Homo sapiens: one gene and its partners. The protein of the gene in region 3 purifies or fractionates together with the protein of the main gene of each other region. This does not show direct contact. Each region holds a gene or a part of one and is shown on either strand. Other genes may lie near its edges. The genes, in order: SCCPDH, SCARA3, EIF2B3, NELFB, SSTR2, ABCF1 and TMEM192.

Region 1 (3,898 bases), about 200 Mb from region 3:
ACACATGACCACTTAACATGGCCCAGGGAATGTCTCGTAGTCAGTCCATATAGTAACCGTTAACGGAACGTCATGTTTTTGTAAACATTAACATGGATAAAAGTTCTGATATTTACTTCCACCCTCAGTGGATCATTCTGCGCTTCCCTTAGGGGAAGACTACTTGGGAGACCACTGGGTTAGAAGATGGAACTTTGAGGGCCAGGCGCGGTGGGTCATGCCTGGAATCCCAAACCTCTGGGAGGCTGAGGTGGGCAGATCACTTGAGGTCGGGAGTTTGAGACCAGCCTGGCCAACATGGTGAAACCCTGTCTCTACTAAAAATACAAAAAATTAGCTGGGCATGGTGGTACACACTTGTAATTGCAGCTACTCGGGAGGCTGACGCAAGAGAATCACTTGAATCCGGGAGGCGGAGGTTACAGTGAGCTGAGATTGCGCCATTGTATTCAAGCCTGGGCAGCAAGAATGAAACTCCAGCTCAAAAAGAAAAAAGAAGAAGATGAGACATGGAGAGCAGGATTGCGGTTCTGACCTTTGAGCCAATTGGCCTCACAGGGGAGAAGTGTCTCCCCGAGATGAAGGATTGCTACTCTGACTGTTCACCTGTCTCAGACAAGCACAGGGTACTAAGTGGAGAAAAATCTAGCAAGTTCATAAAATAGGAATAAGTTAGTGAGAAGTCTCAACTCCAGATTACTCAAAGAAGTGGGCCAGATGTGACAAAATGCAGTAAAAGTAAGGAATGGGCAGACTGGCAAATAGGAAAATGCGTTTTCTTTCCAGAAGGAGCTACGATTATTTTAATAAGCTCATTAATACTTCACTGCAGCCTGCCAGTACTCATAGATACACTGCCTAGCTGATGGGCTCACTAGCCAGACATGAGAAGTGAGCCTGTGGCTGTAAGGCAGAGCCTGGAGGAGCTGGGAGTTGGCCCAGCAGAATGAAGGGAGGGTGCTCCAGGTAGTGGAAGCAAGCACACTGGGTGTGAAGAAGCAGCATGCTTGGGGAATTACATGGAATTTAGAACTGCTGGAACATGAGAATTAAGGGGCTGTGGTATGATATGATACTAAGGACTTTCTGTGACATGCTAAGAAATTTGGACTTTGTACTATATACTGTAGGGATTTTTTTGTTTTTGTTATTTTTATTTAAGTTCTAGGGTACATGTGCACAACATGCAGGCTCGTTACATAGGTATACATGTGCCATGCTGGCCTGCTGCACCCATCAACCCGTCATTTACATTAGGTATTTCTCTCAATGCTATCCCTACCCCTGCCCCCCACCCCACGACAGGCCCCAGTGTATGATGTTCCCCACCCTGTGTCCAAGTGTTCTCATTGTTCAGTTCCCACCTGTGAGTGAGATCATGCGGTATTTGGTTTTCTGTCCTTGTGATAGTTTGCTCAGAATGATGGTTTCCAGCTTCATCCATGTCCCTGCAAAGGACATGAACTCATCCTTTTTTATGCCTGTATAGTATTCCATGGTGTATATGTGCCACGTTTTCTTAATCCAGTCTATCAGATTTGAAGAGTGGATATGTTATAGGAGTGAGGCAGGAGGAAAGGTGACATCACATTTTTATTTTAGAATAACAATTTGTTATGTATTTGGAGATGGGGCTAGCTGGCTGCAGTATAACCAGTTAGGGCCTATTTATAGTAAATTAGATGAGTGTTGACAGGGTCTGAACTAAGATATAATTGTGCAGGGGAGAGGAGACTGATTTGAGATAATTTTAGGAAACTGAATTGATAAAACTTGGTGACTTCCAGGATAGGTAGCATGAAAGACTGCTTCCAGATTTTTTTTTTTTTGAGGCGGTTCTTGCTCTGTCACCCAGGCGGAAATGCAGTGGTGCGATCTAGGCTCACTGCAACCTCCACCTCCCGGGTTCAAGCAATTCTCCTGTCTCAGCCTCCTGAGTAGCTGGAACTACAGGCTCATGCCGCCACACCTAGCTAATTTTTATATTTTTAGTCGAGACAGGGTTTTACCAAATTGGTCAGGCTAGTCTTGAACTCCTGACCTCAGGTGATCCACCTGCCTCGGCCTCCCAAAGTGCTGGGATTACAGGCATGAGCCACCACACCCAGCCTGCTTCCAGGTTTTAACCTGAGAATTATGTGGGGAGTAATGCCATTAAATAAAAAAAAGAAGCCATCTGAGTACCATGTGCCTGGCCCCACACTAAGCTCTTTGTATTCTCTTATTTCATCCTCACAACTACCCAGGGAAGTGAGTGTTGTTATTCATCACCATTCTTTGATTGAAGAGGTTGATGCTTAGAGAGGTAAAGTGACTTGCCCAGGGTCACACAGCTAGTGGCTGCAGAGCCTGGATGTAAGTGTGGCCTGACTTAAAGCCCACACTCTAGACCACTCTGCTGTTCAGCCATTTGCTCAGTTTTGTCTCAGAGTCTTCCCTCTTTTGAGCACAACAGAAAGATGTTAGAAGTGGGACCCAGGCAGGCTGAACTAGAGGCTATACTTTGTTTTTTATTTTTATTTTTTTGAGATGGGGGTCTCACTTTGTTGCCCAGGCTGGAGTAGAGTGGCACGAACACAGCTCACTGCTGCCTCAACCTCCTGGGCTCAAGGGATCTTCCAGCCTCAGCCCTGAAAGTAGCTGGGACTATAGACTGGTGCTATCACATCTGGCTAATTTTTGTATTTTTTGTAGAGACAGGGTTTTGCCCTGTTGCCCAGGCTGGTCTCTAGCTCTTGAGCTCAAGTGATTCACTCACCTTGGCCTCCCAAAGTGTTGGGATTACAGACGTGAGCCACTGTGCCTGGCCATGTGTTTATATATATATGCCATATATATATAGTCCTTATATGTATAATATATATATATAATAAGTATATGGCCTCTATATATAGTCCGTAGCATCATATTTTATACACACACACACACACACACACTTTTTTTCTTAGAGAAATGGGGTCTCAAAGCGATCCTTCTGCCTCAGCCTCCCAAAGTGCTGAGATTACAGGTTTGAGCCACCACACCTGGCCTAGAGGCTACACATTGAAGCACGTGCTAGGAAGTGGAGGAGGAGAAATAGGTTTAGAGAGAGAGATGATGAATTCGGTTTTAGACTTGTTGAAATTGAGGTGTCTGCTAGATACCTTGCATCAAGACAGAAAATACAAATAATATACTGTTTGTATATGATGTTTTATAAGTAAGTGAGAAAATCAGGGGGAAGAGAAAATAAAAGGAAAATGTAGGCAAAGTGAAATTAGTTTTATGTGTGACTCATGCTACATGTCCTGTGCTCTCACTGGTCCTGACCTTTCTAACAAAAAACAGAGGGAAATCCTATCAGTGAGCAACTCTAGACATAGAGGTTGGAGGTCACAGCACAGATTTTATTGAAGTTGGGAGAGTAGGTGAGATTTCCTGGGAGAATGTCTGGGGCAGTGATTCTCCATCTTTGAAGTACACAAGAATCACCTGTGAGGCTTATTTACAATGCAAGTTACTGGAGTCTACCTCAGAAAGCCTGATTCTGGGGGTCTGGAGTGGGAGTGAGTGACCAGCATGCAACCCAGGTGATTCTAAAGCAGGTGGACTCATGGCCAACTTGAGAAATTTGGGGGTGAAATAACTTAAGAACAAGGCCGAGAAAGCTCCAAATGAGTTTTAAAATGGATGTGTGCAAACCCTAAGGATCAACCAGGATAATCCACTGGGTGCAGAAAGCATATGGAGCTTCAACTTCTGTTTTAATCTCAACTTTAGTTCTATTTAAATATGTTTAAAATGTGTGTTTTATTCATTTGGTAGGCAATTTAAGTGATTTATAAGTAAATTCATATAGTTAGTAGGTGATGGATTCCAGGTGTGAACTTGGGTCTTACTGCCTTGAAATCCTTTGTTC
Region 2 (4,557 bases), on a different chromosome or scaffold from region 3:
CATGGAAATTGAGAGGAGAAAGTTCCAAGGGGGAGGAAATGACCCACCGCGTTGACTGCTGATCAGCAGAGTTAGCTCAGGATTCATGGATCAGAGAAGGCCAGGTTGCAAGGGCCAGAGGGGCTGAGTGGATCAGAAGCAAAGGCGCAGGAGGAGCTGTGTCCTTAGAGTGGGAGGCAGGGCCCAGCTCAAAGGATTTCAAGGCAGGGATGGCCCGTGCTCATTGGGAGGGGGAGGGACAGAAGAGGCATGGGGGGACTTGGGGACAGAGCGGTGGAATTGAGGGAGACTTGCTTTGAGAAGAAAGAATCTCTTTATCGGGAGGCAAGGGAAGGAGAAAAGATGGTTACAGACATAGACTCTGCATTACGAGCAGCTGCATTTAACCTTTTTATAACACATTTATTATTTTTTTAAAAATCAAAAAATTCCAAAAAGGAAAAACATTCACTCACGTGAACTCCTGCCCTGTAGAGATAATAAATGACAAAATGTAGATGAACATTCTTCAGAAATCATTCTGTGTATGTTTGCACAGATTTTTTTCATGTAGATAAGATTACACTATCCATGTTATTTTTATTTTTATTTTATTTTACTTTGAGACATAGTCTCACTCTGTGCCCAGGCTGGAGTGCAGTGGTACCATTGTAGGTTACTGCAGCCTTGACCTCCTGGGCTCAAGGATCCTCCCAGCCTCCCAAGTAGCTGGGACTATAAGCAGGTGCCACCATGCCCAGCTAATTTTTGTATTATTTGTAGAGATGAAGTCTCGCTATGTTGCCCAGGCTGGTCTCAAGCTCCCGACCTCAAGCAATCCTCCCTCCTCAGCCTCCCGATTACTTAGCGTTTTTGTTCTTAGTGCTGGTTTTTAGTTGTTGCTTTTGTTTTTGTTTGTTTGTTTCTTTGCTTGAGACAGAGTCTTGCTCTGTTGCCCAAGCTGGAGGGTAGTGGCACTATCATGGCTCACTGCAGCCTCAACCTCTTAGGCTCAAGCAATTGTCCTACCTCAGCCTCCCAAGTAACTGGGACTACAGATGCATGCCACCATGCCCAGCTAATTTTTGTATTTTTTGTAGAGATGAGGTTTCACCCTGTTCCCCAGGCTGATCTCAAACTCTTGGGCTCAAGTGATCCTCCTGCCTTAGCCTCCCAAAATGCTGGGATTACAGGCGTGAGCCACTGCACCCAGCTTGCAGTATTTTTAAAAAATGGTTTCATAACATCCCATAGTAAGACTCTACGAGCATTTATGTAACCAATCCCCTGGAGATGGGCATTTTAGCTATTTGCATTTTCCCTCAGATTTATCATAGCATGCAGTGATCACCTTTACACATACACCTTGGCCTAATTGTGTAATTATTCTCTTAACATGAAGTTCCTAGAAGGAGGATTACTGAGTCAAAGGGCACTCGCCCTTGCAGTATTGACAGAGGGTGCCAGGCTACTCAGAATGCACGAGAAGGCCTCTTTCCCCATCCCTCCCCCAGACTGGGTTTGAAGTGTAGGCATCTGGACAGAGTTAGTGGATGATAAAGAAAGAAGTTGGAACCTCATGGTCTTGATCCTTTCAGAAAAGGAGGGGGTGAGCTCATCTTTGGGGAATGAGGTGGGCTGACCTGAGGAGGAACCCAGGAATGGGAAGTGAGGATCCAGATGGCAGGACTTGGCTGAAGCCAAATGCATGCCCCCCTCTGACACTCTCCTGCAGCTCCAGGCTTCTCTAGTGCAATTCGAAGAAAGCAGGCTGAGGATGGAAGGGACCATGGCCAGGAGAGAGAACTACAGGCTCCATGGGGCAGAACTCAACCCTTGGGGACTGGGCTGGGCTTGGAGGTCAGGGCGAATGAGAACTTGGAGGAAGGAGAGCGAGGAAAGGCTGAGTGCATTGGGGATGAAGAAGGCAAGGGGCTTGAGATCAAGCAGATGGAACAGCAATAAGCCTTAAGCTCCAGAGGGCAGGCAGGATGTGTAGAGATGAGACAGTAAATCCCATGTCCAGAGCCCTGAGTTTCAACAGAAAAGCTGCTTCCATTCAAGTTGATGGCAGGAGACAGAATGAAGAATTCATCCAATCCAGGTGATGTCATTGTCCAGAACAGTGTTCCCTAAAGTCAGAGTCCCTCTGCCTCTGAACATAGGTCCCAGAATTAAAAGATACATTTATTTTTCAAGATCTGCAGGAAGTTCCATGACCAAATAAGTCTGAGAAACGTGGAGTTAAACACAGATTTAAATGGGCTTATTATTTTTTTTGGCAGGACTTTTCAAAATGCTTACTATGTGAATGTGAATCTCTAAGATGGCGATAGAGTATGCCATGTTTTCCACACTTACTTGATCAAATAATCCTTTTTCACAAAGAATAATTTGGGACTAGTGTCCCATAGGATATGTTTTGAAACACTGATTTCTTGTAAGTTGGAAATTGGTCCTGGGAGTGATGGGGGTTGGGAGATGGCAATAAATGGCAGCATTAATTGGAATAGGATAGAAAAATAATCCTAATAAAAGTGGCTGCTACTACTATTTATTAAGCATTTACGATGTACCAGGTACTTTTCATATACGTCTCATTGGATTTTCACAGCAGCTCATTGAAGCGGACGATCTCCCCACCATTTACGCATAAGGAACATGAAACTCAGAGGAGGGAAGTGGGGTGCCCATGCGAGACAGGGTAGGATTTGCAGGATCAGGGGTGACAACGGGGATCAAGAGAACTGGTGATTCCTGGCCAGGCATGGTGGCTCATGCCAGTAATCCCAGCACTTTGGGAGACCCAGGGAGGAGGATCACTTCAGGCCAGGAATTTGAGACCAGCCTGGGCAACATAGTGAGATCTTGTCTCTACAAAAAATAAGCAAGATTAGCTGGGTGTGATGGCACACACCTGTAGCCTCAGCTACTTAGGAGGCTGAGGTGGGAGGATCGTTTGAACCCGGGAGGTCTAGGCGGCACTGAGCCATGATCGCACCACAGCACTCCAGCCTGGCCAATAGAGCAAGACCTTGTCTATAAAAAGAAACAAAAAAAGAAAAGAAAAGAAAGCCAGTGATTCCCACCCCTCCCATCCCTCTGAATTCATGGGGTTCAGGGGAGTCGGGGGGGTTGGTGCTGTGGACAGAGAGGAGATCAGTGTGTAAGTAATGGGGGGAGTCTGTTGCATTGAGTGAGTAGCCTAGGTTCTTGTCTCAACTAGAGGCAGCACCAGCCTGCGAGCAGGTATTTAGAAATGGGTGGGCATTCGGGGTTGTCACAATGACCAGGGATTGCTATTGGCCTTTAGCGGGCAAGGCCAGGATGCTGAATGTCTGTGCAGAGTGGGCCGTGCTCATCTAATGAAGAATTGCACCACCTGGAATAGGGTCCAAGTTAGAAAAGTTGAGGGCAAGAAAGTTGTTTAGGATAAAGGGGATTTAGGATAAAGCAGGGATTTACCCACAACCTCTGTGGTTACCAAGAACAGGGTGGGAGGCAGCCAAAGGGATTCAGGTGGAGGTAGCAGGAACCGGGAGGGAAGCCTGTCTCAGAGCAGCAGATGTGGCTTTAGGGATGCAGGAGCTTGAGGATGGGGACCAAAAAAGGGGCGAGTGCTGGAGGAGAGAAACTGGCAGAGCCACGGAAGCAGAAAAGGACAACTTGTTGAGCAAGAAGATTTGAAGGGAAAGGACCTGTGTCTTGAGACCTGAGCGGGCAGGCGGATTCCCAACCGATTACAGACAAACCCACAAAGGAAGCCTGTGGAGAGGGGGTAGTGGCGGAAGGGCTCTAATGAAAACAATTTTGCAACCTTACTTATAGCGTTCTCCAACCTTAAACTAATAGCTATTCTGCACTTTAAATATAGCATTGGCTCCAGAGAAGACTCTGAAATCTTTATTTTTACCGATCCAATTGGCTGTTTTGAAAACCCACTCTGTGAACCCTGCAGAAGATAATTATCAAAATATGTTCCTTGAAGTGCCCAAAGAAAGACCTTTTATTCAGTTCCTCGAATCTCTCCCCCTTGTTGACTCAGATGGAAGAATGCAGTCCCAGAAAGGCGAAAGAGGGAACCAAGGACACATTTTTGGTCAACCAAAAGAAAGCCGGCATTGGTGACCACAGTTGAGTTAGCAGTTGGTTAACAGGTCCGGGCTATTTTCTACCCCCAAAGGGAGAGCTGAACCAAGCTCAACCCCAGTGGAGTCAGTGGCCGTGCTTAGCAATGTGCCAAGGCATGCACCCTCCATCAAACTTGCTACGTGGCTCTGTGAGAGCAGACTTAAAAAAAAAAAAGGAATTTCTCCTCTTGTGGCTGTCCTTTCTGGAGTTTGAGATGGATATTGTGACCTAAGGGATGACAGGAAGAGAGGCCCTTTCAAATTTCTAGTGGTCACCACTATTTTATGGGTCTGGGTTTGCAGCCTTGGCCTTGGCCTTGGCCTTCCCAGGCTATTTAACTTTTTTTTCTAAGCACCTTGCCTGCGATTTGGGTAGTAATCACTGCAAGAAGATTGGGGCCTGGCTGTGCCTTTCACTAGGAAATCCATGGGGCTGGCTTCTTTATGA
Region 3 (4,557 bases):
ATAATAAGACTAGGAAAAGGAAATGCAGAGCAGTAAAGGGTTTAGATGAGAATAAGAAAAGAGTCCGGGCACGGTGTCTTACGCCTATAATCCTAGCAATTTGGGAGGCCGAGGCAGGTGGATCGCTTGAGTCCAGGAGTTCGAGACCAGCCTGGGCAACATGGCAAAATCCTGTCTCTACAAAAATACTACAAAAATTAGCCAGGTATGGTGGCATGTGGCTGTAGTCCCAGTTACTTGGAAGGCTGAGGTGGGAGGATCACCTGAGCCTGGAATGCAGAGGTTGCAGTGAGCTGAGATTGCACCACCGCACTCCAGCCTAAGCCTAAGCAACAGAGTGAGACTCTGTATTAAAAAAAAAAAAAGAGGATAGGAAAAGATAAATAATTGAGGGAACTACATTGGGGTGGCATTCAAGGATAACAGAGGTGAGATAATGAAAAGATTAGTTATTGACATTGCTCCTGGTAGAACCCTGTGAAAATATAATTGCAGGTGTAGACCAGGGTGGCAGTGGAGCGCAGAATAATATAAAAGAAATTGTTGAAAATTGGGATTGAGGCCGGGCACAGTGGCTCACGCCTGTAATCCCAGCACTTTGGGAGGCTGAGACGGGTGGATCGCCTGAGGTCAGGAGTTCGAGACCAGGCTGGCCAACATGGTGAAACCCTGTCTCTACTAAAAATACAAAAATTAGCCAAGCATGGTGGCATGCACCTGTAATCCCAGCTTCTCAGGAGGCTGAGGCAGGAGAATTGCTTGAACCTGATAGGTGGAGGTTGCAGTAAGCTGAGATTGTGCCACTGCACTCCAGCCTGGGCAACAGAGTGAGACTCTGTCTCAAAAAAAAGAAAAAGAAAATTGGGATTGACTCCTGAAGAAAACCTGGCTCAGGAATCTGTAGGACCCACACCAGATAAAACCTCAGGTGAGCCTCAACCTGTATTGGTTACAGATCCAAGGGAGTCCCAAGCCAGAGAGCTTATGAGAAATCATAGCTAGTCCCACATTTACCCATGACTAGCATCTTTCACGCTGGTCTGGAAAGATGTTCATGGATAACCTGAGTGGGAAGACTTGTCCAGATCACAGGTGCACCGCTGTGTCCACATCATGAAAGAGGGACCCTGCTCTCGAGTGAGCATGCTGGGAAAAGTATCCTTTGAAGTGCCAACAGGGACTATGCAGCAGACGGGCCTGAAGGGCCTTGGGTGGAGTGTGGAAGAAGAGAACCTAGGGCTGGGGGCTTGGAATTAGCCTTCACATTCCAGTGTAGCCGTGCTGACAAGGCCTCCGTCAGCTAGTGTGGCTGCCACGCACAGTGCTCTGACCAGCATTCTGTCTATGCTGGAGAATCATAGACAGGCGCACTACCTGTGCCTTCCTAATAGACTGGTAGCCAAAGCCCCCCATACCTCTAACCTTTCCAGGTTTCTCACACTGGAGAGGGAATAGTGTGAACTTCCCCTTCATGTTTTCTTTTGGCTGGGGGATAGATGCCTTCTCAGGGTCTGTCCTTGATTTCGAATTTGTCTAAAATGGATCTCATCCTCACCTCATGCGTGGTCACAGTGGTCCAGGAGGTGACCAGGAACCCAGGATGCTTATGATCAGGATGCGGGGTGTTCCTTGACCTGATCAGGCCTCCTTTCCCAAGAGGTGGTATGTGGGTATCTCAAAGACTGGTCTCAGTGCCTCCCAGCCAAGGGACATGGCATTACTTTCAAGGAGGAGCATTCAAAGCTAAGAGACTGACAATAAGGCCATCTAGAAGCTGCTGCATAAATAATCTTGGTCCTAGGGGGAATGCAGCAGCCTCCTGCTCCCCCTCACTCAGACAGGAAGCTATGGCTGAGAACTCCCTGTATCTCTGATTGAGCACTGGGTTCTACCTAAGGTGTTTTTTTTTTTTTTTTTTTTTTTTTTTTTTATTGATCATTCTTGGGTGTTTCTCGCAGAGGGGGATTTGGCAGGGTCATAGGACAATAGTGGAGGGAATGTCAGCAGATAAACAAGTGAACAAAGGTCTCTGGTTTTCCTAGGCAGAGGACCCTGTGGCCTTCCGCAGCGTTTGTGTCCCTGGGTACTTAAGATCAGGGAGTGGTGATGACTCTTAACGAGCATGCTGCCTTCAAGCATCTGTTTAACAAAGCACATCTTGCACCGCCCTTAATCCATTTAACCCTGAGTGGACACAGCACATGTTTCAGAGAGCACAGGGTTGGGGGTAAGGTCGCAGATCAACAGGATCCCAAGGCAGAAGAATTTTTCTTAGTACAGAACAAAATGAAAAGTCTCCCATGTCTACTTCTCTCTACACAGACACAGCAACCATCCGATTTCTCAATCTTTTCCCCACCTTTCCCGCCTTTCTATTCCACAAAACCGCCATTGTCATCATGGCCCGTTCTCAATGAGCTGTTGGGTACACCTCCCAGAGGGGGTCGTGGCCGGGCAGAGGGGCTCCTCACTTCCCAGTAGGGGCGGCCAGGCAGAAGCGCCCCTCACCTCCCGGATGGGGCGGCTGGCCGGGTGGGGGGCTGACCCCCACCTCCCTCCCGGACGGGGTGGCTGCCGGGCGGAGACGCTCCTCACTTCCCAGACGGGGTGGCTGCCGGACGGAGGGGCTCCTCACTTCTCAGACGGGGCGGCTGCCAGGCAGAGGGTCTCCTCACTTCTCAGACGGGGCGGCCGGGCAGAGACGCTCCTCACCTCCCAGACAGGGTCGCGGCCAGGCAGAGGCGCTCCTCACATCCCAGACGGGGCGGCGGGGCAGAGGCGCTCCCCACATCCCAGACTATGGGCGGCCGGGCAGAGACGCTCCTCACTTCCTAGATGGGATGGCAGCGGGGAAGAGGTGCTCCTCACCTCCTAGATGGGATGGCGGCCAGGCAGAGACGCTCCTCACTTCCCAGACGGTGTGGCGGCCGGGCAGAGGCTGCAATCTCAGCTCTTTGGGAGGCCAAGGCAGGCGGCTGGGAGGTGGTTGTAGCTAGCCGAGATCACGCCACTGCACTCCAGCCTGGGCACCATTGAGCACTGAGTGAACCAGACTCCGTCTGCAATCCCGGCACCTCGGGAGGCCGAGGCTGGCGGATCACTCGCGGTTAGGAGCTGGAGACCAGCCCGGCCAACACAGCGAAACCCGTCTCCACCAAAAAAATACGAAAACCAGTCAGGCGTGGCGGCGCGCGCCTGCAATTGCAGGCAGTCGGCAGGCTGAGGCAGGAGAATCAGGCAGGGAGGTTGCAGTGAGCCGAGATGGCAGCAGTACAGTCCAGCTTTGGCTCGGCATCAGAGGGAGACCGTGGAAAGAGAGGGAGAGGGAGACCGTGGGGAGGGGGAGTGGGAGAGGTAGAGGGAGAGGGAGAGGGAGAGCTACCTAAGGTGTTTTCTGATCTTTAGTGACCAAATCTCTGTCCTTAAGGTGCCCAAATTGCTGTCTGCTCTCTGTCCAGAAGAACCACCAGTCCATTCGTCAGCCCAGATTGTCAGCAAACACCTGGTAAGTGCTAGTGTGGCCAGGACGGGCATGAGATGTTCTTTGGGAGCATCGAGACTTGTTTTTGAGAAGCCGGATTGAGGCCTTTAAGTCCTGAACCTCATCAGCCCCAGGGAAATCACAGTGGGTTCTGAGAATAAAATCTCACTCAACAAGACTGCCTGGGCAAGTAATGACCTTGTAAGGAAGGGTCCATTATAGTGTTGGGACTCAGACACAGGAGCTCTCAATCTCAGCCTGAAAGACTCTAGTCATGGGTAAATGTGGGACTACCTATGATTCTCATAAGCTCTCTGGCTTGGGACTCCCTTGGATCTGTAACCAATCCAGGTAGAGGCTCACCTGAGGTTTTATCTGGTATGGGTCCTACAGATTCCTGAGCCAAGTTTTCTTCAGGAGTCAGTCCCAATTTTCTTTTTCTTTTTTTTTGAGACAGAGTCTCACTCTGTTGCCCAGGCTGGAGTGCAGTGGCACAATCTGTCCCCCTTCTAACTCTGATTTGAGCACACTCTTTAAGAGAGCACATCTGTATACACAAGTGCATGAGTGTGTATATGTGTCTGTTGTTTTATTTTGTTTTCTTGGCAAGAGAGGAGGGCCCATGCTTCAAATAGGTTTGAGTTGGTCTCAGAGGTGTTGTATGACCTTGTGGCCCTGAGAAATACTGATCATGGTCCCTCTTGCTGAAGTGTCTCTATGGAAAGATCCCATTAGATCCCAGCTTGAGGGATCTGGAGGGTGGTTTGCAGTTGGTTGAGATGGGTGGACAGAGTTTTATATTTTGCCTTTTACAGGTTGGAGTTGACAGCCTCATTGGGCCAGAGACACAGATTGGAGAGAAGTCATCCATTAAGCGCTCAGTCATTGGCTCATCCTGTCTCATAAAAGATAGAGTGACTATTACCAATTGCCTTCTCATGAACTCAGTCACTGTGGAGGAAGGGTATGTTTCCCCCTGTACCCACTTGAGGCAAAGATAATGGAAAAATGCCTTCAAAATTCTGAAGGAAGGTTAATTTTAACCTAAAATTGTATACCCAGGCAAAGTGCTAATC
Region 4 (4,557 bases), on a different chromosome or scaffold from region 3:
GAGGTCAGGAGTTCGAGACCAGTCTGGCCAACATGGTGAAACCCTGTCTCTACTAAAAAAATACAAAAATTGGTTGGGCATGGTGGTGGGTGCCTGTAATCTCAGCTACTTGGGAGGCTGAAGCAGGAGAATCCCTTGAACCTGGGAGGTGGAGGTTGCAGTGAGTGGAGATTGCACTATTGCACTCCAGCCCAGGCGACAGAGCGAGACTCCGTCTCAAAAAAACAAAGAGCAGGGACTTCTCCCAGTTCTGCGGGCTGGGATGGGAAGTCCGAGGTCAAGGGGCCTGCATCTGGCTGGGGCTTTTTGCTGTGTCATCCCATGGTGGAAGGCAGAGGGCAAGAGAGCACGGGCAGGGGAGACAGACAGACACAGACAGAGATGAGAGACAGAGACACACAGACCAAGATGAGAGACAAAGATGAGAGACACAGAGACAGAGATGAGACACAGAGAGATGAGAGACAGGTAAGAGAGACAGAGACAGGAGAGACATGGAGACAGACAGATGAGAGACACAGGACAGAGACAGATGAGAGACAGAGCTAGAGATGAGACACAGACAGACGGAGACAGAGAAGGGGCCACACTTACCCTTTTATCAGGAGCCACTCCTGTGCTAACAGCGAGAACGCTTTGGTGAGGACGGAGCCCTCACGACCTCAGCAGTGTTGCGTTGGGGATCAGGTTTCCGATGGTGAACTTGGGGACACGTCCACACCACAGCACGTGCCTATTGTGTTTCTCGGTGGCTGGTGTGTTTGAGGATGGCGCGTGCATGCGTTTTCCAGCTTTCTTTGTGGAGGAAGTTACCTGTGGGTATTAACCTGTCCCCAGCCATCCTCTCACTGAGCTTGGGTTGCCTGGGCCTGGGTTTCCTGTTGTTGCTGGAACGAATGACCACAGACAGTGGCATTAGACAGCGCAGGCAGACATGACCTCCTGGGCTTCTGCGGGTGCCAACACTGCCGCTCCTTCTGGAGGCTCAGGGAGGCTCTTGAGGGCATTGGGACATCGTGCTGCCGGCCGCCGGGCAGAGCCGGTTTGTTTATTTTTTGAGACTTCCGGGAACATAGTTATAAATAACTTTAATTTGCCTTGGCCTGCCCACTGCAGTACAGTCACGTGTCACATAACATTCTGTCTACCGTGGACCACATATACGACCACGCGGTCACATAAGCTGACAATACTGTATTTTTACTCCACTTTCTCTATTTAGATACACAGTTGCCATTGTGTCCCAGCAGCCTTCAGTACTCAGTACAGCCATGTGCTGTGCAGGTGTCTAGCTCAGGGGCATGAGGCCATGGCCCAGCCCAGTGTGCAGTGGGTGGCACCTTCTGGATTTGTGTCAGTCACTGTGGAGTTCGCACAATGACAGACTCACCTGGGAGGCCTTCCGTGCGCTTCTGTTTCTTTCTCTCATTTGATTGTGGCTAGAAACAGGCTGGGAACCAGGAGTGCAGCTTCTCGGAGTACGTGGCTGCCCCACGGGGTGGGATGTGCATTTTCAGTCACATTTGGGGAGAGCACGCGTGTTCTTAAGTTTTTAGCGGGTTCTAGTAAGAATGGATGTTGATTTTTAGAATTCTCTCCTGTTTATTTTTTAACATTTTGTGGTGGGAATTTGTGAAAGAATACGAAGTCAAGAGCATGGTACGGTGAGGACCCAGCACCATCTCCAACCTCCCCGGGGTCCACGTGGGGTCTGCGTGTGGCCGCCTGTCCCTCAGCACGATGTCTGGGTGTAAATCTGAGACATCACAGCATGCAGGCTGCAGACGTAGGCATCTCTACAAAAGAAGGATGCGTTTACAGGAGAATCGCTTGAACCTGGGAGGCAGAGGTTGCAGTGAATCGAGATCACGGCACTGCCCTCCAGCCTGGGCGACAAAGCCAGACTCCGTCTCAAAAAAAAAAAAAAAAAAAAGGGCGGGGAGCCGGGCTTGGTGGCTCATGCCTGTAATCCTAGCACTTTGGGAGGCCAAGGCGGGTGGATCACCTGAGGTCAGGAGTTCCAGACCAGCCTGGCCAACATGGTGGAATCCCATCTCTATTAAAAATACAGAAATTAGCCGCGTGTGTGACGCATGCCTGTAGTCCCAGCTACTCGGGAGGGTGAGGCAGGAGAATCGCTTGAACCCAGGAGGCAGAGGTTGCAGTGAGCCGAGATTGCACCACTGCACTCCAGCCTGGGTGACAGAGCGAGACTCCGTCTCAAAAAAAACAAATAAAAAATAAGACTGTCTTTAAATGCCTTTAAAAAACTGGCCAGGCATGGTGGCTCACCTTGTAATCCCAGCGCTTTGGGAGGCCGAGGCGGGCGGATCACCTGAGGTCAGGAGTTCCAGACCAGCCTGGCCAATGTGGCGAAACCCCATCTCTACTAAAAATAGAAAAATTAGCCCGGCGCGGTGGCGCACGCGTGTAATCCCAGCTGAGGGAGGCTGAGGCAGAAGGATCGCTTGAACCCGGGAGGTGGAGGTTGCAGTGAGCTGAGATTGCACCGCTGCACTCCAGCCTGGCTAACAGAGTGAGACTCTTCTCAAAAAAAATAAAAACCAGTGACCACGGACCACGGGCCACTGTCACATCTGAGCCAGGTTCACTGCCGCTCCTCTGCCGACTGACTGCCTGACAGTGGCTGCGCTTCTCCAGGTGTCTCCTGCCTGCTGTGTGGACGGTCCCGTCAGGGTTGGGATGCGCCTGCTGTCCCCTCTCCTGTCTCGCAGTCTTGGGTTCCCCGGAGTTGCAGGAATCAGGGCATTTGCCCAGTGGGGCCTTGCTGCTGGATCCCCTGGTCGGGACTGTGTGCCTGCCACGTGTCCCGTGGCCACCTGGCCATGTGGCCGGCCAAGGCCCTGTGAGATGTGGCAGGCAGGCACCTCGGGGGCCTGGGTCTCCTGGAAATGTTTCTGTCACTCTGGGCGCAGGTGGCGCCAGCTGGGTTGTCCTCATAAAGGCCCCATCCGGGATACTAGGAAGGCCATCCTCAACCTGTCCGCACACGTCACCTCCATGTGGCCTGGCCACAGCTCCTTCAGGCATCAGTCTGCAGGCGGCCGCCCTCCCTCCCTGCAGGGGCCCCGTTTGGGGCGTTGTGCTGGCTCTTGGCAAATGTCTGCCAACACCGTGGCTTCTGTGCTGTGGTCGCACGTGAGGCGTCTGTGGGCACGAATGCTGTCTTTGTTGTGTTTTGGTGTCTGGCTTCAGAAAAGAATGTGGAAGAGTTTCGTTCTCTTTCCTGTGGTTCAGTGTAGCTGGCAGTCAGGGAGAACTCTCTGCAGCTGGCGCCGGCCCTGTATTTGTTAGGCTTGTTTCTCCTGGGCTCGGCTGCTGGGCAAGGCCTTTTGGGACTGGAGGAGCACCTCGTTTTTCTGTCTCCTTCTTCCTCCACCCTCCTCCTGTCCCCGGGCTGTCTCCCCCTCCCTCCACCCTCCTCCTGTCCCTGGGCTGTCTCCCCCTCCCTCCACCCTCCTGTCCCTGGGCTGCAGCTCTGCTTCCCTGCCACAGGTCCCACCCCCTGCCTGCCTCTGTCCACTTCCCACCCCCCTCTTCACCTGCTGAGACCCTGTGCTTCTCATCTCAGAACAACTGAGAACTCTCATGTGAGCACCCCCAGAAGTAGGTTCTGAGGTCTTTGAGGACAAGGGTGCCCTCTGGGGTGGGCAGGGTGAGTGGCACTGGGCTGATGCCTGCTGTGTCTGCAGTGGAGACCTTTGGCGACTTGGCCTTTGGCGACATCTTCCTCCACCTGCTCACGGGCAACCTTGCGCTGCTGGCCGACGAATTTGCCCTTGAGGACTTCTGCAGCAGCCTCTTCGATGGCTTCTTCCTCACCGCCTCTCCAAGGTAGGCCTGCTGGGTACCATCCGGCCCGCTCTGTCCTCTCAGCTCTTGTCCGTAGCAGCCTGAGAGGTGGCTGCTGTCCCCAGCCTGGGGCGGAGGGTCCGCAGGTGGGTCTGTTGGGCACCAGGGCTCGCATGTGGCCCTGCAGGGTGCCTGGGCACAGCTGGGGAGGGTCCCAAAGGCTGGCCATGTCCTGTCTCCAGGGGCCTTGGCCACCTGCATCTGGGCTGGGCCTGGGCAGACAGCAGGGCCTGCCTCCTGCCCCAGCCCTGCACGGCCTTTTCCAGGAAGGAGAACGTGCACCGGCACGCGCTGCGGCTCCTCATTCACCTGCACCCCAGGGTGGCCCCGTCTAAGCTGGAGGCGTTGCAGAAGGCCCTGGAGCCTACAGGCCAGGTGGGTGCCCGGGGGGGCTGCATCTGAAGGCACCTGGTCCCTACCAGCCCGTGTGTGCTTGCCAAGCTGCCCTTGTGGTGCTTGTGTGTGGTCGGTGGGCACCCACCCCTGTGCCCCCTGGGCCTGCCCATGCGCCTCGCCTGCCCCATGGTGTGGTTCCCCGCAGAGCGGAGAGGCAGTGAAGGAGCTTTACTCCCAGCTCGGCGAGAAGCTGGAACAGCTGGATCACCGGAAGCCCAGCCCGGCACAGGCTGCGGAGACGCCGGCCCTGGAGCTGCCCCTCCCCAGCGTGCCCGCCCCTGCCCCGCT
Region 5 (4,557 bases), on a different chromosome or scaffold from region 3:
CAGTTGTGTGGTAGGGAAATGAGCACAGAAGGAACGAGCAATGCACCTGGCAGTTCAGAATCAATCAGAAGCAAAGGTGAGCAAGGATCCTCAAGTACTTGTTGCTGGCCAAGTCTCCTTTAACTGATCTGCAGTCTTTCCAAGGATTAAGAAGTAATCTTCCATCTACACCCAGGCACCAGGAAAAGGACCTAGCTCAGGGGAAATGTGTCAGCCAAGTGAATTAGTCCCACTCTGCTGAACACACCACCCTTTGAACATCTCGCCTCTTCCTAGATTGGCCTCTTTGCTGTCCTCCTGCTTCACTCTTCATATACCCAAGACCCAGCTCAAACACTTCTCTTTGGAAGCCTCCTCTGAGTCCCCCAGGAAAGGAAGGCATTCTTAAGTCCTTCATTTATCTCTCGTGCAATGCCCACCCTATATGAGCTGGCTTCCTTTCCTATCTCCCCTTTTAAATTATCACCTCCTAGAGGGCACTGGCCAAGTTTGTTCATTTCTACATCCCTGCTGTCAGCACAAAGAAGCCTCCTCTCCAGGCCCCCAACCCCCGTGATATTTTTTGAATGGCTGTATATCAATCATTTAATTATGGGATGAACTATTGTTTTAGATCTTAAGCCAAGCCAATAGTGCTCCAATTATTTTCTCAGCAAGGAAGTAACACAGGAGTCAGTTGCTTCAAACCAAAGCCCAGTTATCAGCCGTTCGGTCTCTAGGCCACTGAGGAGCAGAGGGGATGCCTTGAGACGTGCAAAAGACTTGGGGCCAGGTGGCCTGTGTTCACATCCCAGCTCCACCAATTATGTGCAAGAGAATGGGGTGAGCTCCTTAAACTCTCTTAAGCCTCAGTTTCCACATCTCTAAAATGGGGGTAATTATCCCTACCACCTAGGACAGTTGGGGAGATCAAGGGACTCGTGAGTGTGAATGAATTATATCAGTACTGGAAGCCTTCTGCTTACTTCTGTGAAAGAGCTTGTGTCCCACACCTGCTTCCCGTTTTTGTCCGTAATTAGAAAATGGCAGGCAAATTCTCTGGAGTGTTACAGCACTTGGGAGCAGCATCCCCTTAGGGACTTTGGGAAAGAGCTCTTGAGGAAGTCAAGCATTAGGTATTGGAAAACAAAAATAGAAGAAAAACAAAAAATAAACTGAAGCCTACATTTCAAAAATGAAAGCAAACCAGACTTTTATTTTTAATACTGAAGACTATAAATTGTTTCACCACGTAGGTAGATTTCAATAAATCAGAGATAATGAGATGGTAGAGGAAAACATGGGGGGAAACAACTTACGAGGTTCCCATTATGAGCCCAACGCAAGGCTAGGCATTTTCACATATATTCCATCATTTAACCTTCATGACGCCCCCATGTGAAGAAATAAGAGTCAGAACCATTAAGGACCAGGCATGTGGTCACACGGGCTCAGCAGTGGAACCCGGTTTGTTCTGCCTCTAGAGTCTGGGTTTTTTCCACTATGGCATTTTCAGAATGGAAAGACTCCAAGGCAGTCAGCAAGTCAGCATAGATTTCCTGGTAGGGAAGAGGCCAGGAATGTCAGTGTCAGACCCTTCTGAGGTCAGGCGCTGAACTTCTCCAAGCTCTGCCTTTCTGCAGTTTAGATCAGTCAACTTCTTAGGGGTCAAAGTATGTGCTTTTTGAAGCCACAGCCCTCCCCGACATGTGCGTCAGCAGATGATGGCTGAACCCAAACCCTTCCCTACTATTGGAAAAACAACTCAAAAAGTCTGCACACTGATGAGGAACTCTAGAGCTTAATGTTGATGTGGAAAGATAATACATTTTTCAATTTAAGAGTATGTCTGAGAGGCTAAACCAGAAATGTGTAAATTTGGTGAGACTTTAAACAGCCTGTGACCGACGGGCCAATCTTCCTCTTTTCCTTCCAGATGTCACACTGGATCCTTGGCCTCCAGGGTCCATTAAGGTGAGAATAAGATCTCTGGGCTGGCTGGAACTAGCCTAAGACTGAAAAGCAGCCATGGACATGGCGGATGAGCCACTCAATGGAAGCCACACATGGCTATCCATTCCATTTGACCTCAATGGCTCTGTGGTGTCAACCAACACCTCAAACCAGACAGAGCCGTACTATGACCTGACAAGCAATGCAGTCCTCACATTCATCTATTTTGTGGTCTGCATCATTGGGTTGTGTGGCAACACACTTGTCATTTATGTCATCCTCCGCTATGCCAAGATGAAGACCATCACCAACATTTACATCCTCAACCTGGCCATCGCAGATGAGCTCTTCATGCTGGGTCTGCCTTTCTTGGCTATGCAGGTGGCTCTGGTCCACTGGCCCTTTGGCAAGGCCATTTGCCGGGTGGTCATGACTGTGGATGGCATCAATCAGTTCACCAGCATCTTCTGCCTGACAGTCATGAGCATCGACCGATACCTGGCTGTGGTCCACCCCATCAAGTCGGCCAAGTGGAGGAGACCCCGGACGGCCAAGATGATCACCATGGCTGTGTGGGGAGTCTCTCTGCTGGTCATCTTGCCCATCATGATATATGCTGGGCTCCGGAGCAACCAGTGGGGGAGAAGCAGCTGCACCATCAACTGGCCAGGTGAATCTGGGGCTTGGTACACAGGGTTCATCATCTACACTTTCATTCTGGGGTTCCTGGTACCCCTCACCATCATCTGTCTTTGCTACCTGTTCATTATCATCAAGGTGAAGTCCTCTGGAATCCGAGTGGGCTCCTCTAAGAGGAAGAAGTCTGAGAAGAAGGTCACCCGAATGGTGTCCATCGTGGTGGCTGTCTTCATCTTCTGCTGGCTTCCCTTCTACATATTCAACGTTTCTTCCGTCTCCATGGCCATCAGCCCCACCCCAGCCCTTAAAGGCATGTTTGACTTTGTGGTGGTCCTCACCTATGCTAACAGCTGTGCCAACCCTATCCTATATGCCTTCTTGTCTGACAACTTCAAGAAGAGCTTCCAGAATGTCCTCTGCTTGGTCAAGGTGAGCGGCACAGATGATGGGGAGCGGAGTGACAGTAAGCAGGACAAATCCCGGCTGAATGAGACCACGGAGACCCAGAGGACCCTCCTCAATGGAGACCTCCAAACCAGTATCTGAACTGCTTGGGGGGTGGGAAAGAACCAAGCCATGCTCTGTCTACTGGCAATGGGCTCCCTACCCACACTGGCTTCCTGCCTCCCACCCCTCACACCTGGCTTCTAGAATAGAGGATTGCTCAGCATGAGTCCAATTCAGAGAACGGTGTTTGAGTCAGCTTGTCTGATTGAATGATAATGTGCTAAATTGATTACCTCCCCCTTAAAGCGAACACTGAAATGCAGGTAGACAATTCAAAGTCTGGAGAAGAGGGATCATGCCTGGATATGATCTTTAGAAACAACAAAAATAGAAAAAAATAAGTATCTGTGTGTTTGTGTATTGAAAACTCAATATGTAATCTTGTGTTTTTATATGTATACTTGTATATTCCTATTTATTCTCTGTATAGGCATTACCTACGTTCCTGTGTTTACATACACAAGTAGCAAATTCGAGTATGCATAGTGTAGATGGACATTTGCCACAACACACTGCCCGCAGAAATGGACTTACCGTGAAGCCAATAAAGTTCAAGCTTCAGGGATCTCTCTTGCACGGGCCTTGCCAAGGCCCAGGAGGGACTTGGGCAGTATGTTCATGTGGTCATATGTTTTTGTAAAAAATTGTGAAAGTAAGATATGTTTGTATTGTTTTTCTTAAAGAGGAACCTCGTATAAGCTTCAAGCCTCACAAACCTTCTAGCCTCTGCCCTTGGGGATTTGCTTCATTAATTTCAGGCAAGTGAGGTCAATGTAAGAAGGGAAAGGGAGAAGATATTTGAAGAACCAGAATGTAAATTCATGTGTTTCCACTTCTCAGATATAGTCAGAGAATTATTCATTTGCCCAAAAGGACTTAAGTGGTTGTGGTCATCCATCATTGTATTTATCAAGACAAAGCCAACTTTGTTATAAGATTGCATTTTTTTCTTTTCAAATTGCTTTAGTTTTTCTTAGGGAGCTATGAGGGGGAAAAATCACTAACATGAAAGGCAAAAAATGGACTATGATTCCTGTGGGGAAACAATTTCATTCTCTCCATCGTGAAAATAAGTGAATAAGAGTGAAGCAAAATTACACCTTTATGAGAAACCATAAAATTGTTTTTATTTTTCAGGCCAGACATAGCTTCCTAATGAAAGAAAATGGAAATGTAATTCGACGACTCCTCAAAGGGGACTTTAGAGGACTTCATACAAAGCTGGGCATTAAGAAAACCACAATGCATGGCCGGGCGTGGTGGCTTACACCTGTAATCCCAGCACTTTGGGAGGCCGAGGTGGGTGGATCACCCGAGGTCAGGAGTTCGAGACCAGCCTGGCCAACATGGTGAAACCCCATCACTACTAAAAATATGTAAATTAGTCGGGCGTGGTGTCACGTGCCTGTAATCCTAGCTGCTCGGGAGGCTGAGGCAGGAGAATCACTTGAACTTGGGAGGTGGAGGTTGCAGTAAGCT
Region 6 (4,557 bases), on a different chromosome or scaffold from region 3:
CTTGCAGTGAGCCGAGATCGTGCCACTGCACTCCAGCCTGGGTGACAAAGCAAGACTCCGTCTCAAAAAAAAAAACAACAAAAAAAAACTAGGGACTCCTTCTAGAACTCAGATTTCACATCATCTGCCCCCTGTCCCTGCCCCAGCTCTTTCCTTCACTACTCAGAGTCCTAAAATATCTTGGGATCCTCTCTCATTCTCATACCCAGCCCCTGGTCTCCCTGAGGTCCTTTATTAATTTCTGCTACCAGGAATGGTACAAGACAAATGGTATGAATGTGTATTTATGAAATGTGACAACGCGTTATGTCCCTATAAATGTAACTCCCAATACAATGTAACTGAAGGTGGAGTAAATGGATTTCAAGAGTTTCATTTGTATAAAATGAGTTTCTGTGGTTTCCTTGTTAACATGCAAAGAAAAGATCAGGTAGCCGTCCGGGCACGGTGGCTCATGTCTGTAATCCCAGCACTTTGGGAGGCCAAGATGGACAGATCACAAGGTCAGGAGATCAAGACCATCCTGGCTAACATGGTGAAATCCTGTCTCTACTAAAAACACAAAAAATCAGCCGGTCATGGTGGCACGTGCCTGTAGTCCCAGCTACTCGGGAGACTGAGGCAGAAGAATTGCTTGAACCCGGGAGGCAGAGGTTGCAGTGAGCTGAGATTGCGCCACCGCACTCCAGCCTGGGCAACGGAGTGAGACTCCATCTCAAAAAAAAAAAAAAAAAAAAAAAGATCAGGAAGCTCTAGTGCACAGTCAGAGGAATCCAGCAGAATCACAGAATTAGGAAGTGCCAGACGCATAGGGACCCTAGAGATCTCCGGACTCCTCCTTCTATCACACAAAGGAGACAAGTGAGACCCAAGGGGATGGGAAGATGTATTCAAGGTCACACAGCCAGTGAAGGCAGAGCCAGGACCCAGATCATCTGAGATAAATTCCAGGCCCTTTCTTCACTGGATTAGGTGTTGCAAACTACAGCCCATGGGCCAAGGCTGACCTGACATTTATTTTTATATAGCTCCTGAACTTTATAAAAATAATTTTTGTATTTTCAAAGAGTTGTTAAAAAAAAAAAAGAATATGTGATAGAGATTGTATGTGGCCTGCAAAGCCAAAAACATTTACTATATGGCCCTTTATAGAAAAAGTTTGCTGGCTGGCATGCTGGCTCACACCTGTAAACCCAGCATTTTGGGAGGCTGAGGCAGGAGGACTGCTTGAGCCCAGAAATTCAAGACCAGCCTGAGCAACATAGTGAGACCTCATCTCTATACTAAAAATAAAAAAATTAGCCAGGGGTAGTGGTGCACACTTGTAGTCCCAGCTACTCAGTAGGCTGAGGCAGGAGAATCTGTTGAGCCCAGGAGGTTGAGGCTTCAGTGAGCCGTGTTCACACCACTGCACTCCAGCCTGAGTGACAGAGTAAGATCCTGTGTAAACAAAAACAAAAACAAAAACAAACGAACCACCACCCCAACTACTCCCCCAAAAAAAGAAAAGAATAAAGGTTTGCTGGGATAATAACTATATCCCCAGATTCTAACTCTCCCATAAGGACCCTGGAAGCCCTAGTCCCTCATTCCACCTTGCCCCAACACCAAATACACACCTGCTCTGCCTTCTTGGCCTTCTCCTTCCCTTGTTTGGGAGGCTCCTTTTCCTTTATAATTTCTTCTTCTTTATCCTCCTCTTCATTGTCCAGAGCAGCGAATTTATTTTGAGGCTAATAGGGAAAAGACAGGTCTGATGAAATGTTTTTTTTTTTTTTCTTTTTTTTTTTTTGAGACGGAGTCTCGCTCTGTCACCCAGGCTGGAGTGCAGTGGCGCAATCTCGGCTCACTGCAAGCTCCACCTCCCGGGTTCACGCCATTCTCCTGCCTCAGCCTCCCGAGTAGCTGGGACTACAGGCGCCCGCCACCACGCCCGGCTAATTTTTTTTGTATTTTTAGTAGAGACGGGGTTTTACCGTGTTACCAGGATGGTCTCGATCTCCTGACCTCGTGATCCGCCCACCTCGGCCTCCCAAAGTGCTGGGATTACAGGCGTGAGCCACCGCGCCCAGCCCTGATGAAATGTTTTAATTCCTGGGCCCCAATACCTCCTCCTGCTAGTTACTCTCTCACCTTAGCCTTCCCTTTTGACTTCTCTTCCTTTCCCTTTTTGCCCTTGAGTGCAGGCTGCTGTTCCTCAGATACGGCCTGGAGGAGACACACATACACATTACACACATACATACAAATTATTGTGCTACTTTGCTGTGTAATAAGCATTTCTAGAGAGTCTACTGTGTTAACCATACACATGCTCCTCCATTTACGACAGGTTGCATCCCGATAAACCCACCAGAAACTTAAATAAAAAATGATAGTTCTTGGCCGGGCGTGGTGGCTCACACCTGTAATCCCAGCACTTTGGGAGGCCAAGGCAGGTGGATCACAAGGTCAAGAGATCGAGACCATCCTGGTCAACATGGTGAAACCCTGTCTCTACTAAAAACACAAAAATTAGCTGGGCGTGGTGGCACGTGCCTGTAATCTCAGCTACTCAGGAAGCTGAGGCAGGAGAATCACTTGAACCCGGGAGGCGGAGGTTGCAGTGAGCCAGGATTACGCCACTGCACTCCAGCCTGGCAACAGAGTGAGACTCCGTCTCAAAAAAAAAAAAAAAAAAAAATAGTTCCAACTTATGATGGGTTTATCTGGATATAATCCCATCATGAGTTGAGGAGTACCCTAAATGAGTATGACTTTCACACCATCATAAAGTAGAAAAATCGTACACCGAAGCAGAAGTTGGAGACCATCTGTATTGAGTGCTGCTGACGAAAAATGAGACCCAGAAAAACCCTACCCTCCAGCTTCAGACTAGATAGCGAAGAGATAACTAGGGAACGTCAGCAAGGCTAAGGATTATAAGTCAGGCAAGTGCGCCACCAGAGTGAGTGGCACTAGCACTGGAGGCTTTCTCAAGAGCTCAAATGGACATGGACTAAGATGCACACGCAGAAGAGTCACAAGTAGAAGAGCAAGGACCTGGGGCTTTGTTTCAGGTTCTGTGCTTAAAGCAACAGAATCACTGTAGATTTCTGAGTGATAAAAATGGCATGGTTTTTTTTGTTGTTTTTTTTTTGAGACTGAGTCTTGCTCTGTTGCCCAGGCTGGAGTGCAGTGCCTCAATCTCAGCTCACTGCAAATTCCACCTCCCAAGTTCAAGTGATTCTCCTGCCTCAGCCTTCCAAGTAGCTGGGATTACAGGCGCACGCCACCACGCCTGGCTAATTTTTGTATTTTTAGTAGAGATGAGGTTTCGCCATGTTGGTCAGGCTGGTCTCGATCTCTTGACCTCGTGATTCGCCCACCTCGGCCTCCCAAAGTGCTGGGATTACAGGCGTGACCCACTGTGCCCAGCCTGGGCATGTATTCTAAAAAGATGATTTTAACAGTATAAGTAAGACAGACCGAGAAGAGCTAGTTTAAAAGCGGGAAATTACTCCACCATGGCCAGAAGGTGCTAAATGGAGTGAGAGTGACTGATCGAGCCACCACTGTCACCTTATTGATCCGATTCTTCTCCGGCTTGGCAGGCTTAGGAGGATGTTTTTCTTCCTCCTCCTCTTCCTCACTCTGATCCTGAATCAGGGCTGCAAAAACATTACCACCCTAGAGAATGAAAGGGCCACAGAAGTCAGTAGGATGGTCAAGGTTGCATCCTTGGAGTCTCCGTTTACCACACAGATGGCTTACCTTGGTTTTCTTCCCTCCGCGGGGTTTTGGGGCGGGTACTGAAATGACAGGGGGAGAACATGAGATAGGAAAGAATTACAATGTCTGGCCCCCCAATTGAATCCAACTTGAAGATCAGGGTATGAGGTATCACTCTCCATGACTCATGGATTCCAGGTACCCATTCCCCCTCAGGTCATTTACCTTCATCCTCCTCATCACTGGTTGGCACTGAGAGCTTCTTAAGACGCTCCATGAGCTCTTTCTCTTCTCCATCATCATCCACATCCTTCTTCCGCCTGCCTTTTCGGGTATCTCGCTTTTTTTTTTGCTGCTGAGAGCAAAAGAACAGTGAGAAAATGAAGCCCAGGCCCCTGCTGTATTTCTGCCTCACAGAGGGTTCCCCATCAGCTGAATGGAGCAACATGGGCTGGAAAGGGGTTGGTGGAACCCAGATGCCTCCCAGGATTGGTGGGCCCTGTGGCACTTGTACCTGCTGTTGCTGTTGCTGCTGCTGCTGCTCCTTCTCCTTGAGCACTTTCTCTTCTTCCCCAGCCTGTTTATCTTCTACTGCCAGCTCTTCAAAGAACTATAAAGGGAGTTAAGCTACAGGTAAACATGTTTCCAAGAGCAATCCAAGCAGGCTGTGCTCTGCCACACATTGGCCCACTGGCCCTCCACTCCACCCTCACCTTACCTCCTGTCTCTCTCTTTTTTTTCTTTTTGTGGAGAATGGAGTGTGCAGGTCTCAAATTCCTGGGCTTAAGCTATCCTCCCACCTCTGCCTCCCTAAGCGCTGGGATTACAGGTGTAAGCCACCGTGCC
Region 7 (3,434 bases), on a different chromosome or scaffold from region 3:
GCAAGTTGCTTTTTGTTGGTATTCTCCAGGGCTCAACCCCTGGGCCTCTTGGCTTCTCCATCAGCGTTCACTCTCTTGGTGGTCTCACACAATCTCATGACTTTGATAGAATTTATGAGCTGATAATTTCCAAATGTGAATCTTCAGCCAGGCCTTCCTCCCTGAACTCCAGACTTATGTGTCCAACTGCCCCTTCTAGATCACTACTTGGGTATATAAAAAAACACCTCAAACAGAACATGTCCCCAGCTGAGCTATCTGCCACAGTCTCTTCCACCCCTGTAATGGCAGCTCCTCTTTCTCTCAAACCCTATAGACAGTTAATCAGCAAATCCTGCTGGCTTTTCCTTTAAAACATACCCAGAGTCCAACCAATTCTTGGCACCCCCAATGCTACTTCCCCAGCCACTATAATCTTCACCTGGACTATTATAATAGTCTTTCGGTTTTTTGGTTTTGTTTTTTTTTTTTGGGGGAGGGAGTCTCGCTCTGTTGCCCAGGCTGGAGTGCAGTGGCGCGATCTGGGCTCACTGCAACCTCCGCCTCCCAGGTTCAAGTGATTCTCTTGCTTCAGCCTCCTGAGTAGCTGGGATTACCGGCACATACCACCACACCCAGCTAATTTTTTTATATTTTTAGTAGAAAGGGGGTTTCACCATGTTAGCCAGGCTGGTCTTGAACTCCGGACCTCAGGTCATCCACCCGCCTTGGCCTCCCAAAGTGCTGCAATTACAGGCATGAGTCACTGTGCCTGGCCCTATTATAATAGTGTTTTTCTTTTTCTTTTTCTTTCTTTCTTTTTTCTTGAGATGGAGTCTCACTCGTGTCGCACAGGCTGGAGTGCAGTGGCGCAGTCTCGGCTCACTACAACCTCCGCTGCCCAGGTTCAAGCAATTCTCCTTCCTCAGCCTCCTGAGTAGCTGGGATTATAGGTGTGCTTTTTTTATTTTTAGTAGAGACGAGGTTTCACCATGCTGACTAGGCTGGTCTGGAACTCCTGACCTCATGATCCTCCCTCCTTGGCCTCCCAAAGTACTGGGATTACAGGCATGAGCCACCACACCTGGCCTATAAGAGTCTTTTAAGTGATCTTTCTGCTTCTCACTACCTCTCCACCCTGACCCCCCAGCCCCATGCACACACACAAAAAGCAGCCAACAATATCCTTCTAAAACACTACTCTGATGGTTCCCTTTTTCATTCAGTAAAAGCCAAAGCCTGGACAGTGGCCTTCAGGGACCTAGAAAATCTCCACTTCCCACCCCACCCCACCTCCTCTCTCCTACTCTTCCTTTGTGTACCCTGCGTCGGTCACACTGTGGCTTTTGGATTGCTAAGCACATTCTTACCTGAGGACCTTTGCGGTTGCTGTTCCCTCTGCCTGGAAGGATCAACTCCCATATATCTTTTTCAAGTCTTTGTTCAAATGTCACTTGTGGCCAGGTGTGGTGGCTAACCCCTGTAATCCCAGCACTTTGGGAGGCTGAGGTGGGTGGATCACTTGAGGTCAGGAGTTGGGAGACCGGCCTGGCCAACACGATGAAACCCTGTCTCTACTGAAAATACAAAAATTAGCCAGGCGTGGTGGCACGTGTCTGTAATCCCAGCTATTCAGGAGGCTGAGGCAGGAGAATCACTTGAACCTGGGAGGTGGAGGTTGCAGTGAGCCAAGATCGCACAGCTGTACTCCAGCCTGGGTGACAAGAGTGAGAATCCGTCCCCCCCCCAAAAAAAAAAAATCCTCCCACTTCAGTCAGCCTCCTGAGTAGCTGGGATTATAGATGTGCACCACACCACCACACGTAACTTTTATTATAGTATATTGCTATAATTATTCTATTTTGTTATTAATGTTGTTACTCTCTGTGCCTAATTTATAAATTTAACTTTATTGTAGTTATGTGTGGATAGGAAAAAATATAGTGTTCGTAGGGTTTAGTACTATCTGTGGCTCCAGGCATCACCTGAGGTCTTGCAATGATTCCCCTGCAGACCTGTGGCTCCAGGCATCACCTGAGGTCTTGTAATGTTTCCCCTGTAGATAAGGGGAAAATACTGCATGTAACTTACTTGTTTACTTTGTCTGTGTCTCCTGATAGAATGTAAGCTCTATCTTTTGCTTACTACTGTGTCCTTCATACATAGAACAGTGTCTGGCACAAAGTAGGCACTCAATATACGTTGATGAATTAATGTCACTAACTTCAGTGATTTCACTACTGGAATTGTAGTAGAAAAACTATGCTCACACATGCTCAAAGCCTGTTCCTGTAATCCAGCTGTAACCTGGGCTCTGTTTTCACTTTCTGTTTATGATGTCCTGAACTGAGAGATTATTTTTTTAAGGTCTTGTTTAAAAGTTTATGTCTAGGATACACTAAAAAATAACAACATATCAGAAATAAAAGAGATAAGACTGCTAGTTTTTATAATCACTGCTATTTACTATTGTCCAAAAGTGCCCATCAATACAGTTGGATAAAGGAGCAGGATTAATTTGTGCATGGGATGGTTATATATTAATATCTAGAAAATTTAAGAATTAACCATTAGACATCTAGAGAATTTAAGAAAAACCATTAGAAAGCAAGGGTGGCAGACTGTAAAACATGAAGATAACAATTTTCTTACATACCAAAAAGAACCAGTTTAAAATACAATTGGAAAGGTACCATTGCCGATTGCATATAAACATATATTCAGGAATATTTGTTAACCTTTTAGAGCTCTGCTCCTACTAATCCAGTCCCATATTAATAAATATTTAAGACATTTCTGTTATTATATAGGAACTAGATGTTCAGATAGAAATTTCAAATTGGGGCGGGGCATGGTGGCTCACGTCTGTAATCCCAGCAATTTGGGAGGCCACTGCTGGAGAATCTCTTGAGCCTAGGAGTTGGAGACCAGCCTCCTGTTGAAAAGACCCTCTCTCTGTTGAAAAAAAAAATTTTTTTTTTTTGAGACGGAGTCTCACTCTGTCGCCCAGGCTGGAGTACGGTGGCGCAAACTCTGCTTACTGTAATCTCTGCCTCCCAGGTTCAAGCGATTCTCCTGCCTTAGCCTCCCTAGTGGCTGGGATTACAGGTGCCTGCCACCACGCCCAGCTAATTTTTGTATTTTTAGTAGAGACGGGGTTTCACCAGGTTGGCCAGGCTGGTCTGGAACTCCTGTTAAAGTGCTGAGATTACAGGCGTGAGCCACCACACCCAGCCCACATTTGTAATTTAAATGAATAAGATAAAAATAACCTATTAGAAAACACATGGCCATGGCCGGGCGCGGTGGCTCACGCCTGGAATCCCAGCACTTTGGGAGGACGAGGTGGGTGGATCGCGAGCTCAGATGATCGAGACCATCCTGGCTAACATGGTGAAACCCCGCCTCTACTAAAAATACAAAACATTAGCTGCGCATGGTGGCGGGCGCCTGTA

Evidence for each region.
Region 1: the proteins of EIF2B3 (region 3) and SCCPDH purify together in Homo sapiens (co-immunoprecipitation; one large-scale study listed by IntAct). This does not show direct contact.
Region 2: the proteins of EIF2B3 (region 3) and SCARA3 purify together in Homo sapiens (co-immunoprecipitation; one large-scale study listed by IntAct). This does not show direct contact.
Region 4: the proteins of EIF2B3 (region 3) and NELFB fractionate together in Homo sapiens (co-fractionation; one large-scale study listed by BioGRID). This does not show direct contact.
Region 5: the proteins of EIF2B3 (region 3) and SSTR2 purify together in Homo sapiens (co-immunoprecipitation; one large-scale study listed by IntAct). This does not show direct contact.
Region 6: the proteins of EIF2B3 (region 3) and ABCF1 fractionate together in Homo sapiens (co-fractionation; one large-scale study listed by BioGRID). This does not show direct contact.
Region 7: the proteins of EIF2B3 (region 3) and TMEM192 purify together in Homo sapiens (co-immunoprecipitation; one large-scale study listed by IntAct). This does not show direct contact.

Annotation. Positions count from the first base shown.
Region 1 is NC_000001.11:246,730,578-246,734,475, forward strand, and holds part of SCCPDH (saccharopine dehydrogenase-like oxidoreductase), read left to right. Parts: intron 1-3,898.
Region 2 is NC_000008.11:27,639,803-27,644,359, forward strand, and holds part of SCARA3 (scavenger receptor class A member 3), read left to right. Parts: intron 1-4,557. UniProt on the Homo sapiens protein: Seems to protect cells by scavenging oxidative molecules or harmful products of oxidation.
Region 3 is NC_000001.11:44,874,566-44,879,122, reverse strand, and holds part of EIF2B3 (translation initiation factor eIF2B subunit gamma), read left to right. Parts: intron 1-3,427; coding exon 3,428-3,505; intron 3,506-4,296; coding exon 4,297-4,445; coding exon of another isoform or gene 4,446-4,482; exon of another isoform or gene 4,483-4,557. UniProt on the Homo sapiens protein: Acts as a component of the translation initiation factor 2B (eIF2B) complex, which catalyzes the exchange of GDP for GTP on the eukaryotic initiation factor 2 (eIF2) complex gamma subunit.
Region 4 is NC_000009.12:137,268,368-137,272,924, forward strand, and holds part of NELFB (negative elongation factor B), read left to right. Parts: intron 1-3,713; coding exon 3,714-3,855; intron 3,856-4,139; coding exon 4,140-4,248; intron 4,249-4,414; coding exon 4,415-4,557. UniProt on the Homo sapiens protein: Essential component of the NELF complex, a complex that negatively regulates the elongation of transcription by RNA polymerase II.
Region 5 is NC_000017.11:73,167,313-73,171,869, forward strand, and holds part of SSTR2 (somatostatin receptor type 2), read left to right. Parts: intron 1-1,915; 5' UTR 1,916-2,007; coding exon 2,008-3,117; 3' UTR 3,118-4,557.
Region 6 is NC_000006.12:30,577,582-30,582,138, reverse strand, and holds part of ABCF1 (ATP-binding cassette sub-family F member 1), read right to left. Parts: intron 4,322-4,557; coding exon 4,226-4,321; intron 4,064-4,225; coding exon 3,937-4,063; intron 3,792-3,936; coding exon 3,754-3,791; intron 3,670-3,753; coding exon 3,562-3,669; intron 2,209-3,561; coding exon 2,134-2,208; intron 1,734-2,133; coding exon 1,620-1,733; intron 1-1,619. UniProt on the Homo sapiens protein: Isoform 2 is required for efficient Cap- and IRES-mediated mRNA translation initiation. Isoform 2 is not involved in the ribosome biogenesis.
Region 7 is NC_000004.12:165,069,596-165,073,029, reverse strand, and holds the end of TMEM192 (transmembrane protein 192), read left to right. Parts: 3' UTR 1-2,422; downstream 2,423-3,434.